Linked DNA regions of Homo sapiens: region 2 is linked to region 1. The links come from fine-mapping of genetic effects on gene expression. Tissue or cell type: tibial nerve. Region 1 holds a variant in brackets; the other region holds the start of a gene. All regions are shown on one strand. Distances are from middle to middle.

Region 1 (4,225 bases):
CTCACAATGTGTTGTCTCATCAACTGCAAGAATTGTATTGTCCAAATTACTGGATTAAGGATTGACATCAACATTTGGGTAAAATGAAGCCCTCACAGCCACTAGAGGATTCAGAGGATAAACACTCTAAATGGCTTAAAATATGTTTTATAAATACAGTTAAATACAAGGTTCACCCAATCAGCAAATGTTTATTGGACACCTGTTATATGCAAGGCTGTGAATATCAGTGGGAAGCCATTTCTGGAAAACATTTGCTTCCAGAACATCCAATCAATATATGTATATATTTTTGAGATGGAGTCTCACTGTCACCCAGGCTGGAGTGCAGTAGCTTGATCTCGGCTCACTGCAACCTCCACCTCCTGGGTTCAAGTGATTCTCCAGCCTCAGCCTCCCGAGTAGCTGGGATTACAGGTGCCTGCCACCACACCCAGCTGATTTGTGTGTGTGTGTATTTTTAGTTGAGACAGGGTTTCACCATGTTGGCCAGGCTGGTCTTGAACTCCTGACCTTAAGTGATCCGCCCACCTCGGCCTCCCAAAGTGGTGGGATTACAGGCGTGAGTCACTATGTCTGGCCCAGAACATTCAAATCGTATTACAAATTTGTTCTTTAATGTAACACTTCTCCTGAGATGCCATCTTCTTTACTTAGAAACCGCAGCTGAGACAGAGGTTCCCCTAGGGTATGTATTAGCTGACTGTGTCCCTTTTTGAAAACTTTCACCGCCGCTCTACGGGCTTGAAGTGTTTTTTTTTGCAAATACATTCTCCATTGTTTGGTTTTTGCAAGACTCCACATAAATTTTCCCATAGCTGCTTTAGCTTCTACAAATGATCACACTCCCTCTCCCTCCTTGGACCTTGGGTTACTTTTGTACCAGACTTGCCGGGGTGGCCTGAGAATGAGATATAATTCTCAGATAGGGCTGTGTCCCCATCAGCAGCTCCAGGGGGGTAGAGGACCTGGTAGAGGTCAGTTCTTTCCTGTTGAGAGCAGACTCTGTCCAGGAGTTACAGAAATGGATATTTCCTGATGATGTGACCCAGAAAGAGTCTCCTCCTTCCTGGGACGAGGTGAGGAGGAAAGGGAAGTGGGCTTGGGACTCAGCAGACCTGGATTCAAATTCCAGCTCCTCCATGCCTCAGCATGGGCCAGATTTCCTTATGCAAGTGATAGCAGCTTCCTATCAAATGGGAGGAGTAGCAGCGTCTGCCTCCTAGAGTGTCATGAGAAGTAAATGAGGTGTGTGTGTATTGTGGATTCTGTTGCTGCCTCACCAGAGTCCTGCTCATCATTCAGCTGCTGTGAGTGTTGGCTGCTAACTATTCACAGCTACTCTTTCTTTGGAAAATTGGAACTGTGAACCCAGGAGAGGATAGAAGGGGAGGTCTAGAAACCGATATCCTTATCTCAAGGAGTGACCAACTCTGCAACTCCTCATGGGCTCCAGCTAATCCAGCCAGACTCCAGCCACCAAGGCCAAATCTTTACTCAGCTCCTCCCCTGTCATGTCCTGCCTCCCTCCCGCCCTTCTTCTAAGAGCCCTCTTCAAGTCACTTTCACAGGCATCCCCATCTCAGGCTGTACTTCAGAGGAAGCTAAACTAAGAGTATGTAAAGAACCAGAGTCAGAAAAACTAGCTATGACTTATTATTTTTTACCATATATAATGCTTTGGTCACACAAGAGCTTCTGTTCACCTCTTGCGCTCATTTACAACTTGGTGTTTTTGTATGCATTGTTTCCTCTGATGGGAATCCCCTAGTGTTTTTCAACCAACAAATGCCTATTTGTTCCTTCAGGGGCACTGCAAATGTCACCTCCTCATCACAGCCTTCCTGGCTGTGTGTAGAGTTTTCCACTCTCTTAGCTCTAAATACCACTTCTGCTAAAGAGCTCAC[A/AT]TTTTTTACAGGAATTATTGAAAGAACTTGTGTGTGTGTGTGTGTGTGTGTGTGTGTGTGTGTATTAGAGTCAGACTGAATGACATGAATGACATCAGATTTGCAGTCTTAAAAGCTCTCAATGACAAGAATGAATACAGGGAGACCAAGTTGAGAGGGTTGGTAATAGGCCAAGTAAAGGATCAAGATCTAGATTGTGGCAGAGGGGATGGAAAGAAGTAGATGCATTGGAGATAAAGTTAGTGGGTCTTGACAGTGATGGACATAGAGGGAGAGAGAAACGGAGGGGTAAAGGATGACTCCTAGGCTTCTACCATGAGCCCATTTTCAGGCATGGTGGTACCATTTTCTGAGTTGGGGAAACCCTGGGGATTTGCAGGTTTGATGATGCCAGACTTGGATGTGTTATATTTGAGATGCTCATCCACATGGAGATGTTCAAGTAGATAGATGATGGTACAAATCTTGAGCTCATAAGAGAAGTAAATTTGGAAATCTTCAGCCCATGATATCAAAACCTTGGGAGTGAAGGAGATTTATGGAGAGAGGGAAGAACGAGAAGAGCAGAGGACCAATGACTCTGAGATGTTGAGCTCCAACATTTGAAGGCAAAGTAGAGGAGGAGAAGACTGTGAAATAGATTAAGAAGGAGTGGTTTGAGAAGTAGGAGGAGAACTTGGAGTCTTAGAAACCACGGGCAGAGTAATTCAAGAAGAGAGGGGATCTAGGTGAAAAGGATGTTGGATCCACAGTTCCTTAAAATTTATCAAAGGATAAATAAAATCCTTTGATAATGGGATCACATCAAGTTAAAACACTTCTGTACAGCAAAGGAAACAATCAACAAAGTGAAGAGACAGCCCACAGAATGGGAGAAAGTATTTGCAAACTACCTGATGAGATTAGTAATCAGGATATATAAGGAGCTCAAATGACTCTATAGGAAAAAAAATCTCGTAATCCAATTAAAAAATGGGCCAAAGATTTGAATAGACATTTCTTAAAAGAAGACCTGCAATGGCAAAGAGGCATATGAAAAGTTGCTCAATATCACTGACAATCAGAGAAATGCAAATCAAAACTACAATGAAATGTGATCTCACCCAGTTAAAATGGCTTATATTCAAAAGACAGGCAATAACGAATGCTGGTGAGGATATGGAGAAAAGGGAACCCTCGTACACTGTTGGTGGGAATGTAAAATAGTATAACTACTGTGGAGAACAGTTTGGAGGTTCCTCAAAAAACTAAAAATAGAGCTACCATATGATCCAGCAATCCAACTGCTGGGTATATACCCCAAAGAAAGGAAATCAGTATATTGAAGATATCGGCACTTCCATGTTTGTTGCAGCACTGTTCACAAAGCTAAAACTTGGAAGAAACCTAAGTGTCCATCAACAGATGAATGGGTAAAGAGAATGTGGTATTTATACACAATGGAGTATTATTCAGCCATACAAAGAGAATGAGATCCATTTGCAACAACATGGATGGAACTAGAGATCATCATGTTAAGTGAAATAAGCCAGGCACAGAAAGATAAACATTGCATGTTCTCACTTATCTGTGGGGTCTAAAAATCAAGACAATGAACCCATGGAGATAGGGAGTAGAAGGATGGTTACCAGAGGCTGGGAAGGGTAGTGGGGCAGAGGGGGGACATGGGGATGATTAATGTGTACAAAATAGAATGAATAAGATTTAATGTTTGATAGTACAACAAAGTATAGTCAATAATTGCGTATTTTAAAATAACTGAAAGAGTATAATTGGGTTGTTTGTGACACAAGGATAAATGCTTAAGGGAATGGATAACCCATTCTCCATGATGTAATTATTACTTATTGCATGCCTGTATCAAAATGTCTCATGTACTCTATAAATATGTACACCTATGTACACACAAAAATTAAAAATAAAAAATGATTTGATAAATGTTAAATCAAACATTTAAACATACTCAAGGGAACCATAAAGGCACCAGCAAAACAAACCTTAAGGTATACTTTACAAGTTTGGTGTGGGGAAGGCATTTCTACTATTTAAAGCCTCAGAAGAAAAGACTTAAAATTGGACCATAAATTAACATAAAACTAAATTAATATAAATATAAAAATTAACATAAAATCAACATATGACTTTTGTATGGCCAAACCAGCATAAGTAAAGTCAGTAGACAAAAGTTGGGCAAGAATATTTTCAACTTACACCATAGTTGAAGAACTAATCACCCTTATACATGAAGACTTGCTAGAGATCAGTTCAAAACCCTGGTAGAAAAAAAGGAAGGAGATATGAACCAATAGTTTACAGAA
Region 2 (4,225 bases), 64 kb before region 1:
AAATAAAATAAAGAAGCCATTCATAATAGCAACAAAAAACACCCGGGGCTAAATTTAATAAAAGATGTGCAAGGTCTCCACGTAGAAAACTACAAAACATTGCTGAGATAACTTTTTTAAAAACCCAAAATAAATGAAGGGACATACCATGTTCATGGATAAGAAGTTTTACTATTGAAAATGTTAATTTTATTCCAATTGATCTAAAGGTTCAAAGTGATACCAATTGAAATCCCAGCAAGATTGTGTTAGTGTGTTTGTGTGTATATATATAAATAGGTATGCTGATTCCAAAATTTCTGTGAAAGTGTAAACATCAAGAATAGCCAATGCAGTCTTAAAAGAACAAAATGGGTAGGCTTATTTCATGGGACATTTAGACTTATAAGCCCACAGTAATCCAGACATTGTGATAATGGCACAGGGAGAGAAAAATAGGCTAACAGAACAGAATAGAGAATTCAGGAACAGTCTTATGCACATATCGACTACTTGATTTACGACAATGTTAGCATTGCAGAAGAGTATGTGTGTGTGTGTAGGGGGGTGGTGGTGGTGGTGGTGATCTTTTCAATAAAGAGTGCTGGTCAGTTGGATATCCAGATGAAAAAAATGGACACAGGACAATGGAAATTTTTTTCTGATGAGGTGTGGCATTGTATTTCTAGAAACAATGACTGCTGAAATTTATTTGGAAGTTCTTTCCTTTCTGAGCTATAATTTCCCTCTGTTGTTCCCAAGCCTTCAGTGAATGCCTGTTTCCCACACCTATCTTTTGTTAATGCATCTTTCTTATGGTCCTAGTTCTAGGCCAGGACCAGCAAAGCCCAAGCAGCAGTTGAGAACTAAGTTCTAAGCTAGCTCCTGAGTGGGCAGGAAGCTCAAGTCCTTTTCTCCCAATGGCATCCTATATCCTGGTGCCACACAAGAATGCCATTCTGGCTGACTTCGCCTCCTGGCCTCTCCCAGTCAGACATACCTGGAGCAGTCAGTGAGCAGTGAGATTGCTAGGGGAGATTGCTAGTGTAGACAATTCTTGCATGAAAAGGGGGATGGGGGTGCAACAGTCTAGCAACCAGCAAGTGATATCAAGAACTAGAGGGTTTTTTTTTTTTTTTTGGTTGGGGAGGAACCCCATTTCACAGTCACCTTTCTGACCCACCATCAGAGCCATCCCATTCCAATCTCATTTTCTTCCTTTCCTCACTCCAAGAGACCGTGACTGTGGGCAGATCCTAGACCCCTCTTCAGAGCTTCGGGCTCTAGGCATTCCTGCGGCCCTCCCCTCCCTATCATTAAAAGGGGTGGGGTCCTGCTGCCTTCTCCAAGTGGTTTCAGCTCTGGATCCTTTGGGGGCAACGGAGCCCACCCGCCTGGAGCTCCATTACTGATGCTGCAAGTTTTTGACTCAGTTTCCCCATATGTGAGTGAGAGTTTAAGCGCGGCAATCTCCAGGGGGGGCTGTCAAGCTGACTCAGATCAGTGAGACGAGGAGGGGGCGGGCATGCTAAGAGCATCCTCCGGCGCTGGCCTGCGTCCCCCCAGGTAAGGCAGCACCCATCTCCAAAGTGGTCCTGTCACCACCTTCCTCTTCCCCCCGCACCCACGCCGCGGGGCGGGGACTAGCGCCGCCTCAAATATTTAGGGCAAGGGAGTGTCCCACTTCTGGGGAGGGGTGCCGTTCGGGCTTCTCTCCTCACCGTGGGTGGCGAAAGGCGGGACGGAAAAGCGCCGTCTGGACAGGCGCGCCCCCCTCAGGGATGCAGGGCCGGGCGGGGGACCCGGCGGCGGCCCAGCCCGGAGGAAGGACCTCCACGCCCCGGCCCGGGCCCCCGGGCCCCCGGCCCTAGGCAGCGCCCGAGGCCGGAACAATAGCGCGCGCGGGCGGGGCGGGGGCGGGGGCGGGGCGCTCCTCTGGGCACCGCCCCCGGCCCGCCCCCCGCGCTCGCAGTCCCGCTCGCACACTGGCTCCCACCCGCCGCCCGCCCAGGCACTGCCCGCGGGAGCCGCCGCCGCCGCCGCCGCGCCCGCCATGGACGTCCGCCTGTACCCCTCGGCGCCCGCGGTGGGCGCGCGGCCCGGGGCCGAGCCGGCCGGCCTGGCGCACCTGGACTATTACCACGGCGGCAAGGTAGGCGGGGGCGGGCGGGGGTCCCCGGCGGGCGGGGCCGGAGTCACCTGGCAGCTCGGGACTCAGGCGCTCCCGGGGTCACACGGGGCCGCGCACATCAGCCCCGCCGACGGGCACGGGCGGCTCACATCGATCCCCTCGCGGCCACGCTCACGCCCTGAGTTGTTGGGATCGCGGGCAGAAGTCATCCCGACAGCCACCCGTGCGACGACACAGTGGCCCCTCACTCGCGTCCCCCTGACAGCCTCGCAGTCATTCACAAGCCGTCACAGTGACCCACAGCCACACGCAGGCGGCCAGGCACTGCTTACACGGTCCCGCCGTCCCACGCAAGTCACCCTGACAGTCACTTATACACAACGACACGCAACCACTCACCCGCAAACAGCCTCACCGCCACAGACGAGTCACCCACAGACGCTCCGATGCCCCACACACCGTGACATGCCCCCACCCGCTGTCACACCCAGGCACAACGGGGGACAGTCACACAAAGAAGTCGCCCGACAGTCACACTCTCGCAGCCACAACGCCTCACCCAGGCGCACGCTGTCACACACAGCCACCCCCCTGGACGGTGAGCCTCAGACACAGATCGTCCTGACGGCCACACAGTCACACGCGGTCACACCCAGGGACGGCCACACCTCGGTCATCCACACTCGCGCGTCGAGGTTTAACTTCTCAGCGCCGCAGCACACTAATTGGGCAGTTTACTAATTGGCCGTCACTGCCTGGCGGGGCCTCGGATTCCGAGTAGGCTGCGGCCAATCGAGGCCTGTGTCCTCCCGGGAGCGGTGAGCCGGCGTCCCTCCAGGCTGGGGCTGTAGTGCCGGACACCCTCCCTCCTCCATGTTTCCAGGATCTATCCCCCCACCCCAGCCAGGTCCCAGCTGCGCTGCGCCGGGCGCATTCCCAGTGATGGAGGCTTGCGTGCCTGGAACCCCGAACCCGAGGCGTCAGGTCCCACTGCCGGGTCTGGCCCAGCCTGGATGGGTTGGGTGCCTCTAAGCAGTCCGCGTCCCCTTCGGTCGCCGGAGAGGGAACTTTCAAACTTAGTTAGGAAGCCAGACTGTCCGCGCGTCCGCCAGTCGGTGCGTCGGTCCCGGGCCGGCTGGAGCCAAGCGCGGGTTTTCGTCACTCGGAGCCCGGATTGAACAGCGCGCGTGGGTTTCCCGCAGCCCTGGCGCAGACGCGTGGGCTCCGTGGCGATGCGGGGTGAGTGCGCGTCCAGTGGCTGGATCGGCGCCCCCCAGGGTCTCTCCCCAACCTCGCAGGCTTTTCGTCAGGCCCCTGGTAGTGGGGATGAGGCAGGAGAGAGGCGTCCCGGCGCGGATCCCGGGGCCTCCCGGGCTGGGCCTCCCTGAGTGCGCCCTCAGGCCCCAGGGGAGCGGCTTCTGGCAAAGCCTCCCTGCAGTTCGCCAGGGGCAGCAAGCATCCAGGCCACTAGGGCCTGCGCGATGTGGGGCGGTGGTGGGCGACAAGTGAGGTCTCGCGAAGAGTGGCGGTGGTTCTCTTTTGTCCAGTGACCTGCAAAGTTAGAAGCCGATGAGGGGGGATGGTAGCCTCAGGAGAAGGCCGGGAGCTGCCTCCAGTCTGATGGAGGAAAATAGATTAAAAGTAGCAAGTGGAGTTTTCAGGGAGGAGAAGGTTGGGTGTGGGGGCAGCTGGTCTGTCTTCTGCCCTTGGCTTTGTTATTTTTCAAAATGTGAAGTTGGCGAGGTAGGTACCAGCCTCTGGTTTGCGGGTGTGGGTGGGCTGGGCATTTGTGCCTCAAAGTCTGAGTGGGTGGGGGTTTAGCCTGGAGCGCTCCGTTTGAGGGTGGTGTTTCTATAAATCTCGCCAGGGTGGGGCTGTCCCAAATAGGGGCCTTTGGAGGCAGGACTCAGCCGAGGCCCCTGCTTTATTCTGATGCTCTGTAAACCTCTGACTCAGCACCAGAACCTGTGCGAATCTCGCCGGGAAGGGCCCGTCAGGGAGGGAATGAGAAGCCGGCGATTCTGGTTTCTTTCTGTGTGGGATGTAGGACCCCTGGCCCATAGCTGAGGATGTGTCCAGAGTGGGGCGGGGCAGGGATGGGGGTGGGGATGCAGC

What was found. PIP is the estimated chance that this variant, and not a neighbour inherited with it, causes the effect.
Region 2: TOX2 starts here. The variant in region 1 is fine-mapped to the expression of TOX2 in tibial nerve (GTEx, PIP 0.93).

What each region holds. Positions count from the first base shown.
Region 1 is chr20:43,976,829-43,981,053 of GRCh38, forward strand. All of the region lies in intron 2 of TOX2 (TOX high mobility group box family member 2), which reads left to right. Among named protein-coding and RNA genes, the nearest start is that of TOX2, 64 kb to the left of the region's middle. The variant A/AT (reference allele first, on the strand shown) is at 1,908.
Region 2 is chr20:43,912,860-43,917,084 of GRCh38, forward strand. TOX2 (TOX high mobility group box family member 2) reads left to right here and starts at 1,993. Exons shown (of 9, transcript NM_001098797.2): 1 at 1,993-2,131. The coding sequence starts at 2,033. RefSeq lists silencers at 1,644-1,763, 1,864-1,963, 1,984-2,093, 2,144-2,233, 3,304-3,363 and 1 more and enhancers at 1,730-2,447, 2,448-3,165.